Homo sapiens: one gene and its partners. The protein of the gene in region 2 binds, or shares a complex with, the protein of the main gene of each other region. Each region holds a gene or a part of one and is shown on either strand. Other genes may lie near its edges. The genes, in order: AP3M1, AP3B1 and ARF1.

What was found.
Region 1: the proteins of AP3B1 (region 2) and AP3M1 are in contact, whole or in part, in a cryo-EM structure (PDB 9C5A), measured with the Homo sapiens proteins. Residues at the interface, in NP_003655.3 of Homo sapiens: Leu60, Lys64, Val67, Gly68, Ile70, Ala71, Lys72, Gly73, Ile92, Glu93, Lys96, Leu97, Val100, Arg104, Glu107, Asn128, Gln129, Leu130, Arg137, Arg143, Ser163, Pro164, Tyr165, Lys168, Asn169, His172, Gln175, Lys176, Leu202, Ser206; in NP_001307192.1 of Homo sapiens: Met1, Phe15, Leu16, Glu17, Trp20, Lys21, Ser22, Val23, Gln26, Val42, Glu43, Asn44, Val45, Pro46, Pro47, Val48, Ser50, Tyr55, Ser58, Ile59, Tyr60, Gln71, Thr72, Glu73, Val74, Pro75, Pro76, Leu77, Phe78, Ile80.
Region 3: the proteins of AP3B1 (region 2) and ARF1 are in contact, whole or in part, in a cryo-EM structure (PDB 9C5B), measured with the Homo sapiens proteins. Residues at the interface, in NP_003655.3 of Homo sapiens: Glu52, Asn54, Pro81, Val84, Lys85, Val87, Ala88, Asp111, Leu112, Leu114, Leu115, Ile117, Ser118, Thr119, Gln121, Arg122; in NP_001019397.1 of Homo sapiens: Glu17, Arg19, Tyr35, Ile46, Pro47, Thr48, Ile49, Gly50, Phe51, Asn52, Val53, Glu54, Lys73, Ile74, Leu77, His80, Tyr81, Asn84.

Annotation. Positions count from the first base shown.
Region 1 is NC_000010.11:74,140,724-74,147,828, forward strand, and holds part of AP3M1 (AP-3 complex subunit mu-1), read right to left. Parts: intron 1-7,105. UniProt on the Homo sapiens protein: Part of the AP-3 complex, an adaptor-related complex which is not clathrin-associated. The complex is associated with the Golgi region as well as more peripheral structures.
Region 2 is NC_000005.10:78,284,616-78,291,720, reverse strand, and holds part of AP3B1 (AP-3 complex subunit beta-1), read left to right. Parts: intron 1-7,105. UniProt on the Homo sapiens protein: Subunit of non-clathrin- and clathrin-associated adaptor protein complex 3 (AP-3) that plays a role in protein sorting in the late-Golgi/trans-Golgi network (TGN) and/or endosomes.
Region 3 is NC_000001.11:228,078,104-228,085,728, reverse strand, and holds the start of ARF1 (ADP-ribosylation factor 1), read right to left. Parts: upstream 3,022-7,625; 5' UTR 2,964-3,021; exon of another isoform or gene 2,879-2,963; intron 2,596-2,878; exon of another isoform or gene 2,355-2,595; intron 1-2,354. UniProt on the Homo sapiens protein: Small GTPase involved in protein trafficking between different compartments. Modulates vesicle budding and uncoating within the Golgi complex. In its GTP-bound form, triggers the recruitment of coatomer proteins to the Golgi membrane.

The DNA of each region.
Region 1 (7,105 bases), on a different chromosome or scaffold from region 2:
AACCCTTACATTTATGGTCAACTGATTTTCAACAAGGGTGCCAAGACCTGGGTGACCAGTTGGAGAGAGAACAACCTTTTCAACAAATGGTACTGGAACAACTGGATTTCCACATACAAAAGAATGAAATTGGATACAAAAAGCAACACAAAATGTATCAAAGACCTAATTGGAAAAGCCAAAATGATAAAACTCTTAGAAAAAATATGCATAGATTTTGACTCTGGATTAGACAATGTTTTTTAAGATACGATACCAAAAGTACAGACAAGAAAAATAAAAAATAGATAACCCAGAGTCCATCAAATTTAAAACTTAGTGCTTCAAAGGACATTATCAAGAAAGCAAAAATTCACAAAATGATAGTAAATATTTGAAACCATATATCTTAAAGGGACCCCTATCCGGAAAATATAAAGAACTTTTACTCAATAATAAGAAGGGCCAGGTGTGGTGACTCACAACTGTAATCCTAGCACTCTGGGAGGCTGAGGAGGGAGGATTGCTTGAGCCCAGGAGTTTGAGACCCCGTCTCTATAAAAAAATTTAAAAACTAGCCAGGCATAGTGGCTCATACCTGTAGTCCCTGCTACTTGGGAGGCTGAGGTGGGAGGATTGCCTGAGTCCAGGAGTTTGAGGCTGCAGTCAACTATGATCCCACCACTGCACCCTAGCCTGGGTGACAGAGGGAGACCTTGCCTCTAAAACATAAAAAATAAATAAATAAACAAGCCAATTAAAAAATGGGCAAAGGATTTGAAAAGACATTTACTCAAAGAATATATACATACAAACGAATCTTACAAATACGATGTTGAATAAATGAAGCCAGATGCAAAAGAATATACACAGTATGATTCCATTTATATGAAGTTGTAGAACAGGCAAAACTAATCTACGTTAAATCAAATGGTTTCCTTTATGGAGAGTGGAGGGCCATGGGGATGATCTCCTAGAGTGCTGGTAATGTTTTATTTCTTTTTTATTTTCCTTTTTTTTTTTTTTTTGAGATGGAGTCTTACACTGTCGCCCAGGCTGGAGTGCAATGGTGTTATCTCGGCTCACTGAAACCTCTGCCTCCCAAGTTCACGAGATTCTCCTGCCTCAGCCTCCCTAGTAGCTGGGATTACAGGCACACACCGCCACACCTGGCTAGTTTTTTTTTTTTTTTGTATTTTTAATAGAGACGAGGTTTCACTATGTTGGCCAGGCTGGTCTTGAACTCCTGACCTCGTGATCCGCCTGCCTCAGCCTCCCAAAGTGCTAGGATTACAGGAGTGAGACACCGCACCTGGCCAATGTTTTATTTCTTGACCTGCATGATGTTTACAAGCTGTGTTCCTTCTATGATAACTCATTAGGCTTTACATTGTGATTTGCATACTTTCTGAGTGTTAGTTATGCTTCCTATAAGAAGTTTATTGTCCCTGCAATATGGGGGACAATGGAAAAATGTCTAATTATCTTACCTTGTTCCTATCTTTTACGTGTATAAGCACCAGTATCAGGTGTTTAGTCTAGTGGCTCAATCATTCCAAGTAATAGTACTATAGTCTAAGAAGAAAGAATTTAAGACCTATGAATACAGTTTCTATGAATGAAGATAAATTCCAAAGAGGAAAGGAAGACTTTCCAGAATTGATTCATTTGATTCTGTTGACAGAAAACAACATCAACCCTTTCTTTTATGAAAGCGGCTGACATTTAAAGAATATGTGGTGATGATCTCCTCTTCCCATTCGACACATGTTCAGTAGTTATCAATAATACTAGTTACTAAGATATGTTTTAGTAATTATTGTATTAATAAAGTATGAATACTGTTAACAGTTTAGGGTTCCTGTTTAATTAGAACCAAAAAATTTCTTTGTTTAAAGCCCTCTGTTTAGCCAAGAAATCAACTTGAGTTATTAGCAATAAACTCTGACACCTCAGGGTTGGAACCTGCCAAATTTTTCTACTTTATCTAGTCAGATGCTTTGCTTAGTAGGCTTGCTTTGTGTCTTATATTTCTGTCTGGGTATTAATATAAGTGCCATTAGAATACTTAGACTTGCTATATAGAACCTGCTGATTTTAACTATAATCTTTAGCTGATAAACTTTTCATTTTCATTTTTTAAATGAAACAGGAATATCCAACCATAAGATCTGCAACTAAATTTTTATTATTACACCTTTTTCTTGGAAGAAAATCAGCATCTGAAATATATAATGTATGACTTCAAGTGGAGCACTGTAATCCACAAGCAGACTCAGATTTGGGCACTTCAGGTGAGTCACATATGGAACACAGCATTCTTTGCAAAAATTAATCTTTTGGCCCCATTCAATGTGGTTATTTTTGGCCAGGCACAGTGGCTCACGCCTGTAATCCCAGCACTTTGGGAGGCCAAGACTGGTGGATTACCTGAGGTCAGGAGTTCAAGGCCATCCTGGCCAGCATGGCAAAACCCTGTCTCTACTAAAAATACAAAAATTAGCCGGGCATGGTGGCGTGCGCCTGTAATCCCAGCTACTTGGGAACAAAGCTTGTTTGTTTGTTTGAGCAGAGTCTCCCACTGTCACCCAGGCTGGAGTGCAGTGGTGTGATCTCTGCTGACTGCAACCTCCGTCTCCCATGGGCAAGCAATTCTCGTGCCTCAGCCTCCTCAGTAGCTGGGATTACAGGTGTGCACCACCATGCCCAGCTAGTTTTTCTGTTTTTAGTAGAAATGGGGTTTCACCATGTTGGCCTCAAGTGATCCGCCTGCCTTCGCCTCCCAAAGTGAAGCTACTGTACTCAGTCCCCATTCAAAGTGTTTTATTCATTAAAGATAATGAATAATAAATGAATTAATACTATCTAAAATGTATTGAGTACTTATTATGGGCCAGACACTATGCTAGACACTTTATCTCATCTTATTTTCACAATGCTACACCATAAATACTACTATTATCCCCATTTTACAGATAAGACAATGTCATCTCAGAAAAGTTAGGTCAATTACCTAAGATCACGCAGTAAGCTAGGATTCAAACCTAAATCCAGCTGAATTCTGAGCTCCTGCTCTTATCTGCCTTGTAGAGACTAATTATTAGGAACACGTTCTAATACAGCACTGTCCAACAGGGCTTTCTGCAATGATGGAAATGTCCTTTATCTGTGCTAATATGGTAGCCACTACACCCATGGCTATTGAGCACTTGAAATGTGGCTAATGTACCCAATACTGAAGTTTTAATTTTTTTGAAATTTTAATTAATTTTTTTTTGAGACGGAGTCTTGCTCTGTCTCCCAGACAGGAGCGCAATGGCGTGATCTCTGCTCACTGCAAGCTCCGCCTCCCAGGTTCACACCATTCTCCTGCCTCAGCCTCCCGAGTAGCTGGGACTACAGGAGCCCGCCACCACGCCTGGCTAATTTTTTGTATTTTTAGTAGAGATGGGGTTTCACCATGTTAGCCAGGATGGTCTCGATCTCCGGACCTCATGATCCACCCGCCTCGGCCTCCCAAAGTGCTGGGATTACAGGCGTGAGCCACCATGCCCGGCTTTTTTATTTTTATTTTTTTTTTGAGATAGGGTCTCGCTCTGTTGCCCAGGCTGGAGTGCAGCTGCGTCATCTTGGCTCACTCCAACGCCCACCTCCAGAGCCCAAGCGATCCTCCCACTTCAGTCTCCTGAGTAGCTGGGCTTACAGGCGTGCATCACCACACACAGCTGAGTTTCAAATTTTTGTTTTGTAGAGACAAAGTCTGCCTATATTGCCCAGGCTGATCCTGGACTCCTGGGCTCAAGTGATCTTCCCACCTTGATCTCCCAAAGTTCTGGGATTACAGGTGTGAGCCACCAAGCCTAGCCTGAAGTTTTAATTTTAATTAATTTAAATTTAAATAACCATATATGGTTAGTAGTTAATATATTGAACAGTGCATGAATGTGCTGCTTTAGCTTATGATTTTTTTTTTTTTTTGAGACGGAGTCTTGCTCTATTGCCCAGGCTGGAGTGCAATGGCACGATTTCCTCTTACCACAACCTCCGCCTGCTGGGTTCAAGCGATTCTCCTGCCTCAGCCTCCCGAGTAGCTAGGATTACAGGCATGCGCCACCATGCCCAGCTAATTTTTTGTATTTTTAGTAGAGATGGGGTTTCACCATGTTGGCCAGGCTGGTCTCGAACTCCTGACCTCGTGATCCGCCCGCCTCAGCCTCCCAAAGTGCTGAGATTACAGGCATGAGCCACTGCACCCAGCCTAGCTTATGATTTAAGAGGAGGAGGTAAAAGACATTTCTTGTTTAGTTAGGAGGCAAAAGACATTCTAGTTGTTATGCTGAGGAAGTTTAATAAATTATTTAGAGTGGAAGTTATATTTAAAAGCACCGACACAGGTTATCTAAAATCATTCATCCTATCGAAAATATAGTTCACAAGGATTTATAGTGCTCCTTTGCCACAATACACTCTGAAAGAGTTGCTTGTTTTGAAAGTAAGTGATTTTGTAGTTACTTTATTTTAGGGCCAGATCTCTACTCATCCTCTTAAGCTGGTGAAAAATTCTTTCCAGGAAAGTTTCCACCGAAGTTGTTTTTATTGGCAGTAGTTCAGGTCTCAGAATACAGAAAGTTAAACCAGCCTCCTAGATTTATTGTTGTTATCCTTAGTGCTGAGATGAAAGCATAACACTTGTAAGTTCTCGACTGTGCTTAGCTTTAAAACCCATCTTAACCTTCTATAATAGGAAAAGAGAGCTTACTTCTTCTATCCATATTATGACCAAGGTCTAATGCATATAACAATTAAATAATACCATGTTGCAGTGTAAATTAGCCTGTTTCTTTATTTATCGTCCTTTTGGTAGCTGCAGTTATTTTTTTAATTATTATTTTCATAAACTTTCTGAGAAAACTACACACTCATTATTACCACAACCATCTTTTTGTTCCTAGTGGCTTTTGAGTCATAAAACAGAATTCTCCCAGCTTATTTAAAAGCCACTAGAAGAAACTGTGTTCAGAGGCAGACCCACCAGAGCTTTGACTGCAGCTTAAATACATCATAAATCCTTTTTACTAAACATTTTATAATCATCCTGGGTAATTCACAAGCAATGCATTTACAATAGTCAAAATATTCTTGGAAGACAGTGTCTAAAAACAAAAATGTATTCCTTCTATATATAATATGATGGAGGCACAGAAGGGCCTATACTGAACTTGAGAGAATGAGACCAGAAAAGCATCTACTCTTCTGATTCTCAGCCAATATCTTGACCACATATTCATTCAACACAGAGTTTTGAGGCACTGGGTATATAAGAACAAACAAAATTAGAGTTCCTATACTCACAGCATTTAGAGATGAGCAGAGAAGACAACTTAATACAGTTAAGATGTAATTCCTACGATGATACAGGAAATATAGTGTGCTGTGGGAATCTACAAGGCTTAGAGGTGAGAGAGAACACAAGACAAATAAATCCAGTATAAATTTAGCAAATATGGAAGGTGGAGGGAAGAGGGGAGATGAAACTGGACAAGGAGGTAAGCAGAGACTGATTGGTTCATGGAGCATGCTAAACTTGTTAAGGAGTTTGGACTTTATTCTTAGTGCAATGTAAAGTCATTTTATAATTTTTTTAATTAATCATGCAATCCGATTTACATTTTTAGAAAGATCATACTAATTACACTGCGGAAACTGGATAATCGGTAACTGAACACTGTGACACCAGTTGGGAGATGAGTGGTGATGGCCTGGTCTAGAGTCTTGACTATGAGGATGGGGTACAGTGAAAAGATAAGAGAAACATTTAGGTTTTGTGCTAAAAAACATTTAGGCTTGGAGGAGGGGGTGTGTGGAGATGAGAGAGATGTGTCACTTGGCCTGGTCCTGTGTAATTTGACCAATTCTGGATACATCTGACCCAAATAAATATATTCAAAAAACTATTATATATACCCTTCTGGTGCTTTAGAGAAGCCAGATTGGAATCAGAATTGTAAGTAATCAGGATTTTTTGTTAATGGGAATTAATCAAAAGGAGAATTGAAACAAAAGAAAGAATGTGCATAGTATGAAGAGAGCTTATGGCAGGAACTCCAACATTTGAGTAGGAGGTGGGTCAAGGAAGTGGACCTAAAGAATGACCAAGATGTGACTGAAGAGTCCTAAGAAAAAAAAAAAAACAGGGTGGTTTTTAGTAACTATAGCTTATTAGTGTATTTCCAGAAGAATGGAGTGGTAAATACTGTTACATGGCACAAAGAGGTTAAGCTACGAGAATTGAAAATGTCAGCTGGGCGTGGTGCTCACACCTATAATCCCAGCACTTTGGGAGGCCAAAGTGGGAGTATCACCTGAGCTCGGGAGTTCGAGACCAGCCTGGCCAACATGGTGAAATCCCATCTCCACTAAAAATACCAACAAATTAGCTGGGTGTGGTGGTGGGTGCCTGTAATCCCGGCTGCTCTGGAGGCTGAGGCAGGAGAATCGCTTGAACCCGGGAGGTGGAGGCTGCAGTGAGCCGAGATGGCGCCACTGCACTCTAGCCTGGATGACAGAGCGAGACTCCATCTCAACAACAACAAAAAAGAATTGAAAATGTCTGTTGATTTAAGAGTGTTTTTTAAACTTTCTTTTCCTTAATGCCTGCTAAGGAGCCCTTTTAGACTCCATCTTCTCACCACCCTGCCAATCAAATTCCTCACCCATAAAACTTTTTATTATTCTTTCTTTTTCAACTGTAAATTGACAAATTATAGTTGTATATATTTAGGGGTACCAGATGTTATGATTTATGAAATGTGGAATAATTAAATGAAGCTAATTAATATCACCATAAAATTTTAATACCACAGAATATTCTCTGTTTATGTATTGTATTTGTGCTTTACACATAAAAAGAGTATTATATTTTTTTCACCTCACAAGAAGCAGTTTTTATCTGCTTTGAGAATGCATGATTTAACACACAGAGGACACTGGTGATCTTGGTAAAGGTAGTTTTGGTGGGCTGGGTGCGGTGGCTCACACCTGTAATCCCAGCACTTTGGGAGGCTGAGGCGGGCAGATCACGAGGTCAGGAGTTCGAGACCAGCCTGGCCAACATGGCGAAACCCTG
Region 2 (7,105 bases):
TCTTCTTTAATCTGGGATAGTTCCTTAGCCTTTTTTGTCTTTCATGAATTTGACATATCTAAGGATTGCAAAGCCTATTATTTTATTTTATGTTAATCAGTTTTTGGGTTTGCTGGTGTTTCCTCATGTTTAGATTCAGGTTATGTATCCTTGGCTGGGATACTACCATAGGTGATGCATGCTTCTTGAACTATTACATTTGGAGGCATAGGTTGTCCATCTTCATGATGTTAATTTTCCTAGTCACAGGGTTGTCCAGTTTCTCTGTGGTGTCATTTCTGTTTTTTTTTTTTTTTTTTTCAAATTATCTGTGGGGAGACACTGAGACCATGCAGATGTCTTGCTCTTTTTTAAATGGACCACTTCTACATTTAACAACCATTGATCAATCTCCTGAACCTGTCTTTTCCACAATGGCTGCAAAATGGTAATGTTTCAGCTGCAACTCCCTCTGCTGTTCTGCTCTTTGGCTTCTTGGCCTAGAGCTCTGTGTTCACTGATCCTTCACTAACCATCTCAATGATGCCTAGGTACTTCCTAGTCATAGTATTATCGGCAATTTTTGTTTTCTGAATTTAATCTTATTTATCAATATTATTTATCTTCTCCTCTCTTCAAACAGAAGCAGAATTAGATGGCTTTATGAAAGTAGATCCTATACCTAATTTATTGGCTAAAAAGGCCTGTGTATTAGATTATTGGCTTCAAGATTTTCAATTTCTTTATTTAAAATGTAAAGAACTTATTTTTGTACTCTTATTTTTTATTTTTTGAGACATGTCTTACTCTGTTGCCTAGGCTGGAGTGCAGTGGTGTGATCATGGCTCACTGCAGCCTCAACCATCTGGGCTCAAGTGATCCTTCCCACCTCAGGCTTCCGAGTAGCTGGGACTACAGGTGCATGCTACCATGCCCAGCTAATTTTTGTATTTATTGTAGAGATGGGGTCTTGCCATGTTGCCCAGGCTAGTCTTGAACTCCTAGGCTCAAGCAATCCGCCTGCCTCATCCTCCCAAGGTGCTGGAATTGGAGGCGTGTACCACTGTGCTTGGCCCCTTCCTTCTTTTTAAAATATTCTCAACTTTTATTTTCTGTTTTTTTCTAAGTTGTTTTTCTTCATTTAAAAAAAAACTTCTTTTAACCAATTTGGGTATGTGTGCCTATAATTAAAAATAATTTTAATAATTCTGTTACTGGATTAAACATTTAATTAGGAATTAATTTCTAGAAACAGACAAGACTAATTAATTTTTCTTAATTACAATAGTAAAGCTACTAAATTTGTAAATCTCTTTTCCTTTGAGAGCATCTTGGTGTATTAGAAGGAAGACTGAGGCTGGGAATGGTGGCCCCTGCCTGTAATCTTAGCATTTTGGGAGGCCCAGGCAGGAGGATTGCTTGAACCCAGGAGTTCCAGACCAGCCTGGGCAACATAGTGAGACCTTGTCTCTATAAATGAAAATGGGAAGAAAAAACAAAAAACACTGGGCCCAGAGTTAGAAGACCTGGATTTAAGTTGATGTTTTCCATTTGTAGTAGTGCTTCCTTGTTCAAGTTGCTGATCTCTTCAAACCTCAGTTTCCTCATTTCTAGACGGGATGTGATAATACTTGCCTCTTTTGTGAGGATCTCATGAGATGGTGTACTTCAAAGTGATTTCTAAACTAGGATATTAACTAACGCTATTTGGGAAAGTTGGTGAAGACTTCACTGAGGTAGTGACACTTTAGATCTTAAAGCCTGAGGTTTTTGCCAGGGGGAGGAAAGATGGATTCTTTAGGCAGAGTATGTAGAAACCAGAAGATTTGCAAAAGAAAAAGCATGTTCAAATGAGATGGATATTTAGACATCACAATTATGAATAGTAGGTAGTAAAGTATGGGAATGGATGAAATCACCCAGGGAAGACTTTTCTTGTTAGACGAGAAGGCAGTTTGGACAAAACCCAGGGGACAACAGGATATAAAGTATGAATGGAAGAACTAGAAAAAGAGACTGAGCTCAGAAGGGTGGGAAAACACAGGAAGGTTTAAAAAAGAAGATGCTAACAGGAAAATTAAAAGAAGGAAATGTTCAGCTATGTCAGGAGTTGTAGAGTAAGGGCAAATAGAATGAAGGCTGAAAAGAGGCCCTTGGGTTTAACAACTGAAAGGTGACTTTAGCAGCCAGTAACTTAGCAATGCAGTACCTCCTGCACACGTTGAAAGGTAGCATTTTTACTCTGTTTAAATCGGGGTGGGCTTTTCATTTGTTTAGATTCAAAGAGCTAATTTAGATCCAAGCAAAGTACTGCATGCTTTCCTGTAGTCAGTAATACAACCCAGTGTATTTGGATTGCATCAATAAAGCCTGACTTATTTTTTAACTTAAATCTTATTCATTGTCAACTTTACAATATCAAACATGAAAATTCTATTACATTCATTCTTAACCTTTAATATCAGTGATTCTCAGGAGAGTCCAGTAGGAAGATTACATGTGTCTGTGGTTTGTACGCAATTATAGCAACTCTGACTTTATCTCCACTACTTTTTGTATCTTTCTGAAAGGCATATAGAAATGCAGCTGAGTGAGATTCATTTACTTAGAGGGATGTTATTGAATATACTTTCTTAAAAATACAATTTTATTAATAGTAACGCATTATATTTGACCTACCTCAAAGAGTCATTGTGTCTCACTATGGGTTCTAAACTTGTTTGTGTTTAAGTCCATTTTTTATTAATACTTAATTTTATCTAGTGTCTGTACCATATTTTTGGGTGTTTTTTTTTTTCATTTAACATTTTTTCATGGTCTAGTTGTTTAGAGCTTGCTCTACTTTCTTTTTGCTTATCCTAGTATTTCTCATTTAAACTTTATCTCATTGTGTATTTTCAGTTTATGTAGTTGCTCAGTGAATATTTCTTAAATATTTATATAGATAAATCGTTCACACATTCTGCTCATATTAAAGACTGTGATTTGTGTGAAGGTGCCTAGCAAAGTGTTTGGCTCATAATTTTGCTTAATAAAATATTTTCAGATCCTTTTACTCAATTCAGTGATTTAGATTCCATTAACATTTGCTCTCTCATTAGCCAATGTTGTTAAAAAATGAAGCATGACTGATTCCGTGGACCCTATACAGAAGGAAACCCTCATCTGGTATCTCCATTGTATTGTAGTACAGCATCACCCTGAAGCTAATTTTGTGTAGTTCACTTGGGTCTTTGCTGTGGTTAGGATTAACTGACTCGGAATTGTCATGTAGGTATGGAATGAACTTTACAATCAGGATTTTTAGTCTTTATCCCAGTCTTCAAAGGCATCTTTACCTCCCAGTCTTGGATTATTCCATATGTATGGTTCATTCCTCTGTGTTTTCACCATAAAAATGCATAACAATTATAGTGTCTTTATCTTGTTTTTAAGAAACTCAGACTTTATTTGGAGAGATTAGGCTAATGTGAACTAACCGTCAGTAATTCAAGTATACAATTAGTGTTAAATTGTGTAATTCAACTTTTCAGTGTGGCATACCTATTGAAAATTATTTGTTATAAGCCTTTGTTTGTGTAAACAGTGATTTACTGAAGAAAATGGAAATGCTGGAATTTTGAAATGTTAAGGACATTTTAGTTTGAGACGTTGAAGTGTTGGTGCCCTGAGTCATAAGCATGACATGAAGAGGCACGGGCTCCTTCCTCATTGTGAATTCCTTTCTCTTGTGCTCAGGAGTTCAGGGTTGCTGCTATGAAAATATGCTTCAGTCATGATTTTGTCAGCATACTGTTATACATCTGATCATCTTTAGTTATGAAGATTTAAATCTCTTGTGTTCTAATAATTCCAGGTTTGATAACTGATCTGTCTTGTTTATTATGTTTAGCTAATTGAAATTTATGGTCATTAGATCTGGTACTAGAGCTGTTAACATATTTGCTTGCTACATATGTAAACTGGATCCTACTTTTTTTTTTTTTTTTTTACAAGGGGTACATTAAGTTATTAGGAAATTTTAGTATTTTATTGATTTTTCACTAAATTTCAGCATTTGTTCCAAGGTGACTAAAAATAAAAGAAGAAACTGTATACTAGCATCTGCAGTGCATTCCTAGCAGCTGAACTAGTTGTTTTTGTCTTCATAAAAATAAGATCGTAAGTTTTACAAAGGGCCAACTATTCAAATTAAGGATTGTCATTTCAGTGGTGCAGTAGGGTTCCATTTATGATTTAATTCTTGAAATATATTTCAAATTAAATAAGATTTTACTACATTGAATAGAAATTTGATGAAATACTGCCTGTAAACAGAGTCTTACTTTCCAACAGATTATAAAACCTTTTATCTTATTTTGCTTTGCTTGCATATCTCCTTGAAGGAGAGTTGGTTCTGACTTCTACATTTTGTCTTAATAAATATTCAAGAAAATATTCTTTCTTGACAGTAGGATATGTTATTTTTAAAATCACTGATCTGGTAAAATTTGAGGAGAAAAATCTGAAAATTAAATTTCAAGCCTTACCATTAAATCATAAGATGTGAGATTTTATGTTATTTAAAAAAAATTTAGTATTTGGAGCAACATTACCAGAGCTGAATGATTAAAGCACATGAAAAAGGCAGACAGATGGTTGGTTGAAATGTTCTTTTTTGCTGCATGAAAAGTTATAAATGCTCATAGAATGACAAATGTATTACAGTGAAATAATTTGACAGTATTTCACTTGTGTATATAAATGAACTACTGACAAAAACAAATTGCCTGCAGTCCAAATTCAAAATTTAAAATGAAGAGCTTAAAGTAGAATAATCAAGAAGGAAATGATTTTCCTCTATTTCATATTATTATGAATAACGTTGGTTCGTGTATTTAGAGAAGGCTTATTTAGCCTATCAGCTGGAAAGACTTAATAGATCTACAAAAGTGAACAGTTTATAGCCAATATCTGTTTATTGATGGACTGATTATTTATATTGCTGATAGGAACCAGCCTAATTAGAAGTCCACTGTCTTTAATTCAGCTGAGTGAGTTGGCATGGTAGCTGGACAAATGAGAGAAGAATGAATAAGGCCCTGTCTCAGTTTGTTTTATGCTGCTATAACAAAAAACCTGAGACTGGGTAATTTCTAAAGAATATAATTTTATTTCTCACATTTTTGGAGGCCAGGAAGTCCAAGATTGAGTCACAGGCAGGTTTAGTTTCCTGGTGAGGGCTGCTCTTTGCTTCTAAGATGGTCTGTTGTTGCCGCATCCTCTGGAGGGGAGTAATGCTGTGTCCTTACTGGGCAGAAGGTGGAAGGGCAAGAGAATGGAAGACTGTGAAGCCTCTTTTGCAAGGGCCTTAATCTCATTCATGAAGGGAGGAGCCCTCATGACTAAATCTTAAAGGCCCCACCTCTTAATGCTATCATATTGGCCATTAAGTTTGAACATCTGAATTTTGGAGAGGACACATTGAAACCATAGTAGGGTGGTTCCAAAATCATAGGTTGGCAGAGCTAGGCATCACCCAACTTTATTCTTGGAATGGGTTTTCTGCAAGTTTTTAAAGCCTAGGTTGAGAATGTGGTCAAGAAGGATGTGGGGGAAATTAATTAGTAAAATATGAGGGCAGAGAGATAAGGGGCAGAGTGGAAGGCGGAGACCTGATTGTGTAGGGCCTTGTAAAATCATTGTTAAGGTCTTTGATTTTACTCTGAGTGAGAAGGGATGCCATTTGGAGAGTTTTGAGCAGAGGGGTGAAATGATTGTTTACCCTTTAAAGGGACATTTTGCCTCTTGAACTAGGAGTGGACTGCAGATTTGAGGCAAGGACCAGCAAGGAGACTATTACAGTAATTCAGGCAAGAGAAGGTGATCCGATTGGTGGTAGTGGAGAGAAGTGGGTGAGTTATGGATATATTTGAAAGGTAGAGCCAATGAGATTTGCTGATAGTTTGGATGTGATATGTGTGTGGGAGAAAAGATATCAAGGGTGGATACAAAGTTTTTTGCCTACACAGCTCGAAGTTTGGAATAGCTGTCAACTAAAATGAAGAATATTGTGCAAAGAGGAATTTTTTTTTAAAGGGGGAAAGGGACCAAGAGCTTGTGCATGTTAAGTTTGAGATGCGATTAGGCATCCATGTGGAGATACTAAATAGGCAGTTGGATATCAGAGTGTGGAGCTTAGAGGAGGAGTCAGGCTAGAAGTATAAATTTGGGAGTCATCAGGTATCATGGGATTGGATGAGACACTGAGGAAGTGAGTGTAGAAAAAGGTCAGAGTCAGTCAGTCCTGGGACATTCCTGGAGTAATTGTGTCAAATAATACAAATAGGTCAAGTAAGATGATTACTGAGAAGGGAGTTTTGGATTTGTCACTGGGTGGACTTTGGTGACCGTGACAAGCAGTTTAGGTGCACTGGTGGGGCTGAAAGCCTCATGAGTGGGCTCAAGAGAGAAGGAAGAAGAAGAATTGTGGTTAGTATTTTTTTTTTTTTTTGAGACAGAGTCTTGCTCTGTCGCCCAGGCTGGAGTGCAGTGGCGTGATCTCGACTCACTGCAAGCTCCGCCTCCCGGGTTCACGCCATTCTCCTGCCTCAGCCTCCCGAGTAGCTGGGACTACAGGCGCCCTCCACCACGCCCAGCTAATTTTTTTTGTATTTTTAGTAGAGACGGGGTTTCACCGTGTTAGCCGGGATGGTCTCCATCTCCTGACCTCATGATCTGCCCACCTCGGCCTCCCAAAATGCTGGGATTTACAGGCGTGGGCCACCGCGCCTGGCCATTAGTATATTTTTAAGTATAGAAGAGCAGAGAAATGGAGCAGCACTTGGAGAGGAATGTTATGTCAAGGAATTTTTCCTTAAGGTAGGAGAAACTGTATTATCTTGTTTGCTGATGGAACCAACTGATGTAGAGGAGAGAAAATAGATGATGCATTAGAGAGAAGGAAAATTGCTGGAGAATTGCTGATATCCCCTTTTTCTTCTAGAAAACTTACAGATACAGGTTAGCTGAAAAATAACAACCCTAATTTCAATATCCAGAAGAAATCGGTTAATGTAGTATATATCTTTTAGCCTTTTTTCTTTTGCATATATATTTATATGTATGTATGTGTATATCATGTGTT
Region 3 (7,625 bases), on a different chromosome or scaffold from region 2:
GAATCATTTTCAATTGCTGTGCCTGTGAAAATCTGCCTGCCTTTTATGCTTTCCCTGTCTCTTCTCTTGTCATTTAGGCTTCTCCTGTTATCAGGGCCTGTAAGAAGCACCACCCTTCCCAGTCTGTTGGCTGACAACCGGCTGCAAGCCCTTGTTACCACTGTGTGAGAACCAGGAAACCAGGATTAGTCAAGGACTTTATGGCTTATCAGCCAGCCTCACTGTCTCCCCATCCCTGTAGGTGGCTGAGTGACAGGACCCTGGGGGAGGACCTGAGAGCCTCCTGGGAACAAAGAGCATCCAGGACATGTCTGTCAAGTCGCTAACAAGGTCATCTGACCCACCTGAGAATGTGAAACTACCTATCTGGACGGTGCGGCAGCTGCGCAGCTGTAAGGCAATAAATGCAACTATGCCTTAGAGAGCTTGTAACAATCACAGGAGAATATTAACCTGAGGATGAAGGCAAGTCCTGGAATCCCAACATGAAGGGGCCAAATCTTTTCCAAAAGACCACTTCAGACGCTACGGGCAGAATGCCCCTACCAACCATCCACGCCAATGAGGAGCAGGCACAACACAGAAAACACAAGTTCTCATAATTTAAGATCCCCACTGCGAGGCCTTTTCGTGTTTCTCTCCCAATTATCTTTGACAGTGCACTCTATTTCCTTTCACCCTCTTGAATTTACGGAGGTGAAAGGTCAAGGGGAGAGAATGCCTATGAGAGACAGTATGGGCCCGCCAGCCCAGGCTGGCTGCAGCCTCTTGCTCAGGAGAATGGTCACAGCTCAGGAAGAAGTGTGTAGGAAAGCTTGGTGGAGCCTGGCCTGTGAGTAACAGCAGGTTTAAATACACCAAGGAGACATTTAATTTGAAGAATCTAAAAAGAACTGCTTCAGTTCTCTGAAACCATGGTCATATACTACTCCACGTGTGAACTTGCACAAGTTTTTTTCTCTTAGGTCTACTTCCATGATCACCGCAGCGGCTGACAGTCCATATTAAATTCTACTGAACTGAAAAATGAAAGGTCAAATGCATCTTCCTATAGTTTCAAGCCTGTCTGGTCCGTAGGGGCAGATGAGCAGTTGAAGATGTCTGAATGTCCTCTCCATATTGTGCAAGAGGTACAGCCCATAGCTAGACCACATGATGTACAAAACCAGAACTGTGAGGGGCACAGAACCAGTTTTTGCTTTTCACTCACAGTCATTGTGTGACTCAGCTGTTGTCCAAACCAACTGTTTCAAATCTTTTTCAACTAGCAAATCCGAAAATCTGCCTCACAGGCAACAGCATATTCCTACTGCTGCAGTGATTTGGATTTATTTTCAACAAGATACGCCTGAAGACAAGTGACAGCTATTCTCCAGTCTACCAACATGTGAAAACATGGACAACACACTCTAACAATGTGTCCAATGAGATGTGTGACTAACATTTACACTACTCAATTCTTCTCAATTTTGGACCCAGCTAATAGTACGGCATTTCAGGACCTTATGGTTCTGGCTACCTAGGCAGTGCTGGTGAAAATTCAAATTAAATGAGGACACCATCCATGCGGTCACACGTGTTAGACAATGGCTAACGCAACAGCAGAGGGCCACAGGGGCCGCACACAACTGCACCGCGGCATCTCACACTCCTCCCAACACACTGCGGAAAACGCCAGAACCACCAGCCTTGCAACAGCCGGCAAAGAAAACTGCTGACCACTAGTTCTGAAACAAGAACTACAACTGCCCACTCCAACAGGGGCAGTGGCACCAACTCTACAGCTCTCAACTAGGCGGCGACTTCGGGGACCATCCAAAGCCTCCGACCTCCCTTCTTTTCCTGCCCGCGATTCCGAGTGCATTTCTGCTCAATTCCTGCAAAGCAGCAACTGGCTGCCTGGACTGAAAGGGAGTGCCAGGAGGTGCCGTCGGAATGGTTATTTAACACTCTAGGTGCGCACGGCTGTCCAGCCCCAATCTCACACGCCGTAACCACCCAGGCTGTGCTCCGAGAGAGCGCTGGGGCCGGCCTCTGCGGCCTAGAGTCTGCGAGCAGGTCGTTCCGCAGGCAGGTTAAAGATTCAGGTAGGTTAAAGATTCACCAGCTCAGAAGAGGCCTTCTTATCTACTGCCGACAACGTCAAGGAAACCACCCTGGAGTTAAAGCGAAGATCGACCGGCCCTCTGGAGGCCACCGGTGCCCTGAGTGCTGACCCCAAATTGCGTCTCACTGGTGTGAAGGGAGGCACTCTGGGCTCCCCCGGAGGTCCACGCATTCCGTTCAGCAGACAGGGAAGGGCACGGGGTTCCTGTCCACCTGCCCGCCCGCTCTCACCACCCCTGACCCGGTACCGTCTTCACAGCAAACACGAACTGGATGGAGTCGGGAGGCGAAGATGCAAGCCCCCACCACCTACATGACCTTGACGGCGTCTCAGGCCGCCCGAGCCTCAGTTTCCCGGTCCCCGAGGCGGGGGTCCGCCCGGATGCCGCTCGCTCGCCTGTACTCGGGTGGGGGAGGCCCCACGACCCCCACCGGCCCCCGCGGCCGCTAATCCCAACCGTCCACGCGCGGGCGGCCTCGGGAAACGAGAAAGGCAGAGGCGAGGGAAGCAGGAAGCCCAGGTTTCCTGGAGAAGAGCCCGGCGTCCAAGCGGACTTCCGGGCGACGGGCGGGGGCAGGGACAGGCAGAGGAGGACAAGCGGCCGCGAGCGACTTCGGGAACCTGTGAGGGGTGCGAGGAGCTCACCGACCCGCCCGTCCGCCCAGCCCCGACTCCGGCCGGGCCCCAGCCTCAGCCCGGCCCGTCTGCGTCCGCCCCCGGCCCGGCCCTGTCGCCGCCGCCGCCGCGGGGGTCGACGTGCCCTTCGCGAACCTCAAGTCGCCCCGAGGCCAGTCCCCAGCCCCCGCCGGCTCCAACGTCTCTGCGGCCCACACCGGCCCGCGCCCCTCGCCCTCACCTCAGAGGCTGCTGCTCCGAGCCAGGCGTTGGTTTTGCTCCCACAAGATGGCGGCTCTGACGGCGGCCACGTCAGCGCCTCCGGGCGCGGGGCACGCCGGGTAAGGGGCGGAGACGCCGGGAACTCCGCCCACCGTGCGCCCGCGACGCAGGCGCGCTGGCTCCGGTAGGGCTGCAGGGGGCGGGGCCGGGGACACCCTGCCCCGGGCCGCGGTCTTAGCTCGCGCGCACCCTAGGGGCGCGCACCCGTCTGCGCCTGCGCCTGTGAGTCTTCCGCGAAGACAGCCTGTGGCTCACTCCCGCCCGTTTGGCGTATTTGGAGACTGAGGCCCGGGGGGCTCCTGCAGCAACTGGAGCTGCGGGGCTGGTTGCCACCTTCCTCCTCCCACACCCGGCAGTCACCGGGAGGCCTCGGGGACTGCGTGAGGACGGGGGTGCGAGGCGCCCCTCGCCGGGGTTGGGGTTCCTGGCTCCCAGGCTGCGCGGGTCCACGTGCCCCGGCCCTGTGGAAACCTGTGGCACTCGCGGGGCCACGGCGGAAGGTCCGAAGGCGGGAGGCTTGCTGTGTCCCCGCACTGGCCTCGGCGCCCCGGCGGCCGCAGTGACGCGCGGGCTCATACCTGGGCCCGGAGCAGACGCCGGGGAGCTGGCCGCAGATGAAGCAAAGGAGGAGGTGGCCTGGGGACCCCGGGGTGAGGCGGGGGCCGTGGGGGTGGGGCCCAGGGTTGGGGACGGCCGCCCAGAAGGGAGGTCACAGTGGTCTCTAATGAGCTGGCCTTTAAGCTGAGATCCAGTTGAGGCGGAGGAGATCCCGCTCTCAGGCACCTGAACAGAGGACCGTTGCAGTCCCTCTGTGTTCCGTGTGCTGGAGGCCTGGCTCTGCCCACCACCCTCAGGTCTTCTTGCCTCTTCCCTTGTGCTGCTGTGAGGGGTTGGGCTTGTGGGAAAGTGTCCCTGCAGCACAGTGCCCTGGGTATTGTGGAGGTCGGGAATCAACCTGATTTGTGCAGGCCGAGGCCCGGGGGCAGGGCCTGAGGGGTGGGATCACTGGGCCTGGCCCAGGCCTCCTGCGCCCCTTTGCTGCCCCCATCACCTACGTTGCTTGCCCCTTGGGCAGGGCGTCCTCACTGCCTCTGGAGGCTGCGATGGGCAGATCTCTCCCCCAGGGCTGCACCTGCGGGGGCTACGAAGGTCCCCAAAAGCGGTGACCCTCCTGCCCCCAAATTTAGTCCCTTTTTCTGCCTGGGGCTCCCTTCCGAAATCTCACCTCTGTGAAGCTGTGGCAGGGTTGTCTGTTTAGGGGAAGGACGTCTCCCACCCTACAGGCATCTCAGATACTCTTGGAAAGCCCCAGGGAGGGTTGTGGATGCCTGTGGAACCTTCTGGTTGTGCTGCCTCTCCCTGCTCAGCCAGAGCGGGGCCATGTGCGGACATTTCACGGGGGTTACATGTGGTTATGGCCTCTTTAGGGCTGAAGGGACCTGGCTTTGGTTCTCTGCTGGCAGAGCGTGGCCAGGGGTGGCTCCAGGGTCACTGAGCGGGGATTGTGTGGGAACCAGAGCCTGCCTCCCCTTCCTTTAAAATACTTTTTATTTATTTATTTATTTTTGAGATGGAGTCTTGCTCTGTCGCCCATACTGGAGTGCAGTGACACAATCTTGGCTCACTGCAATCTCCGCCTCCCGGGTTCAAGCAATTCTCCTGCCTCAGCCTCCCAAGTAGCTGGGATTACAGGCGCCTGCCCCTATGCCCAGCTAATTTTTGTATTTTTAGTGGAGACAGGGTTTCACCATGTTGGCCATGGCTGGTCTCGAACTCCTGACCTCAGGTGATCCACCCGCCTCGGCCTCCCAAGGTGCTGGGATTACAAGTGTGAGCCACCGTGCCTGGCCCCTTTAAAATATATATTTTTTAATGTGAAAAAATGCAGACAGGAAAGAGTGTATGTCAGATACATGCACAGTTTAAAAAGTAATAAAATGGATTCCTGTATAGCCAGCCCTAGGGTTAAGAAATGTACCTTCCCCAGCCTGGGCAACATAATCTCTACAAAAATTTTACAAAGATAGCCAGGTGTGGTGGCACACACCTGTAGTCCCAGCTACTTGGGAGGCTGAGGTGGGAGGATCGCTTGGGCCCAGAAGTTCAAGGTTACAGTGACCTAGTAGGACTGTGCCACTGCACTCCAGCCTGGGTGACAGAGTGAGACCCTGTCTGAAAATAATAATAATAAAAAGTCCCTTCCTGCTGATTCTGTGCTCCTGGTTTGGGCTCCCCACCACCACCGGGGCAAAGATGATGTCTTCAGGCCAAACAGGCGCAGGGGAGCCCAGGTAGTCACACCCAGATTTCTGCCCCTGGAAGGAGACCCACTAGGGAGTTAAGAAGTGTCAGGCAGTGAGTTCCTGGGGTAATTGAGGCCCAGGTGCTCCCCCAACGCTGCCTAGGGAGTAGGGATCCCTTTCTCTCTCCTCTGAGGTCCCTGGGATCAGATGAGGTTTAGCCAAGAGGGGTGGGATGAGCTGACTGGAGGGAGGGGTTTGGGGGCCAGGCTGGGCAGGGACCCTCCAGCCTTCGTGGCCGCCTCCATTGTCAGTCTCAAAGACGCCAGCTCAGGTTGGGCTGGGCTTCTCTCCTCTGGGGGTGGCTGCACCCGAGAACCAGGTCAGAGACAGGGATGCCAAACAACAGAACGGGCTGGCCTCCTAGGGAAGGTGGCTGGAAGGACAGATGGGCTGTCTGGGGCAAAGGAGCAGGAATACCCATGTGGGAGACCTAGTAGGCAGCCATTGTGGCTAGGTGAAGGGGACCCCAGCCCACCTCAGGCCTGGCAGGCACTTTGGTCAACCTCTGAGTGCAGGGCTATGAAGTGTGCGGCATTTGAGCCAGGCCACAGATGTTCAGAGAGGTCTCACACGTACCTGATGTCACACAGCTAGGATGGAACCCCTCTGGAGCTTGACTACTCCATGCCCAAGTCTGCTTATTGCCAACACCTTTACTCTTTCCCCAGCCCTGCCCTCCCTCTTGGGGAACAAGCACTTTGGTGCCTCTGCAGACTGCAATGTTATCTTGGATTCCTCCAGTGATGGGGAGCTCACTACTACACCAGGCATCCCAGGACAGAGTTCACCTCTCTGGATATCCTGCCCCACTCTGTCTCCAACATGGTTGCTCTGCCCGCTCTCTCTGTTGGGAGACTCTAGGTGGGCTAAAGCTGGAGAATCACACTGCAAGATGCCAGGGTGTTCTGCAGGGTGGCGCTGCCTCCACCAGAGTCAGTACTTCCTCCTCACGCTCAGGGCTTAGTCCAAACACTCAACCTCTAAGACCTGTGGCAGGAAGAACTCATACCCTTAAAGACTTCTCTGGGGGGTGAGGTGGGGATAGGACCCTGCTGTCCCCTCTGCCTGGCCCTGTTTCCTTCTTCCCCAGACCCCTACCCAAAGCCTACCCTCTGGCTGGTCACACCACAGGACCTGGAGCACGCCACAGGAATTATTACGGCTATGCTGACTGCATGGGCCCTGGGAGAAGCCCCCACCTCCCAGCTCAGGGTGGCCCTGCCCTGCCTTCTGGGCCTGGGCTGGGGTCTGGGGTCATTCGGGAAGCCGGTGGCCAGTGGTGAGGGTCCCAGCGGCTTGCCTGCACTACACAGTGGCTTAGGAAATTACAGTTGAGTTCCGTGAACTCCAGGGAGTTTGCTCACAGTCGTCTGATTTCTGGTCCTTTTAAAGCATCACCTGTTTCCCCTTATATTCACTCCGGCCTCAGTTTCCCCATCTCCTGCCAGCCCTCCAAACCTCAGATGAAAGCCTAGAGCTGCACATGTCCCTCCCCTGGACTAGCTCTCAGGGGACCTTGTTTTCCCAGGCAGGCTGGCTTCTCAGGGAAAGGACTGTTTTCTCTCTGGTTCCAGCCTATTGTCATGCCTGGGTGGACAAATGGGGAGCCGGTGAGGTGAGCACCCTGGGGAGGGATTGCAGAAAAGCACATCTTGGCTCTTCTTAACCTCTGAGTGACATTTAGCATTTCCTCCCATCTTAAATGCAAGCAGCATTCCCCAAAAGCAGTATTAGCAATACCTGTGGTTTTTGTTGCTGAAATATCAGAACTTTTCATCTCAGAGCTGTTGCATGAAATCTGTAAATATTTTCTCTCTTTTTTATTTTTATTTTTAAAGACAAGGTATTGCTTTGTTGCTTGGGCTGGTATTGAACTGGGAAAATGACCCTCCTAACCCAGCCTCCCAAAATGCTGGCAGTACAGGGGGGTACCACCACGCCTGGCTGGAAATATTGTTTATACTCCTCGATCAACTGGAGTGACAGAGGCGGCCTGGTTTTATCATTTCAGGTGCTAATAACAAAAGAAGTTCTGACTCTGGGTACATGTACCGATCCACTCCTCCTATCAGGATAACAAAATACCTGGCATCCCCAAAGTGACATGCCACAAGTCTTAAAGTGTCTGATGGCACCATTTCCCCAGTCCCGTGCATCACTTATCGTAGGCATTGGTGAAACCCCACTTGTCAGCTAGAGTGGTCCCTGCCTGCACACATGAGCCTTCTGCCTGTCCTGGACTCAGACAGTGGCCCTGACTGTGGGCCTCTGCCTACTTTCGGACACTCCCTTCTGCCCGTGGGACTTGGGCAAGTTGT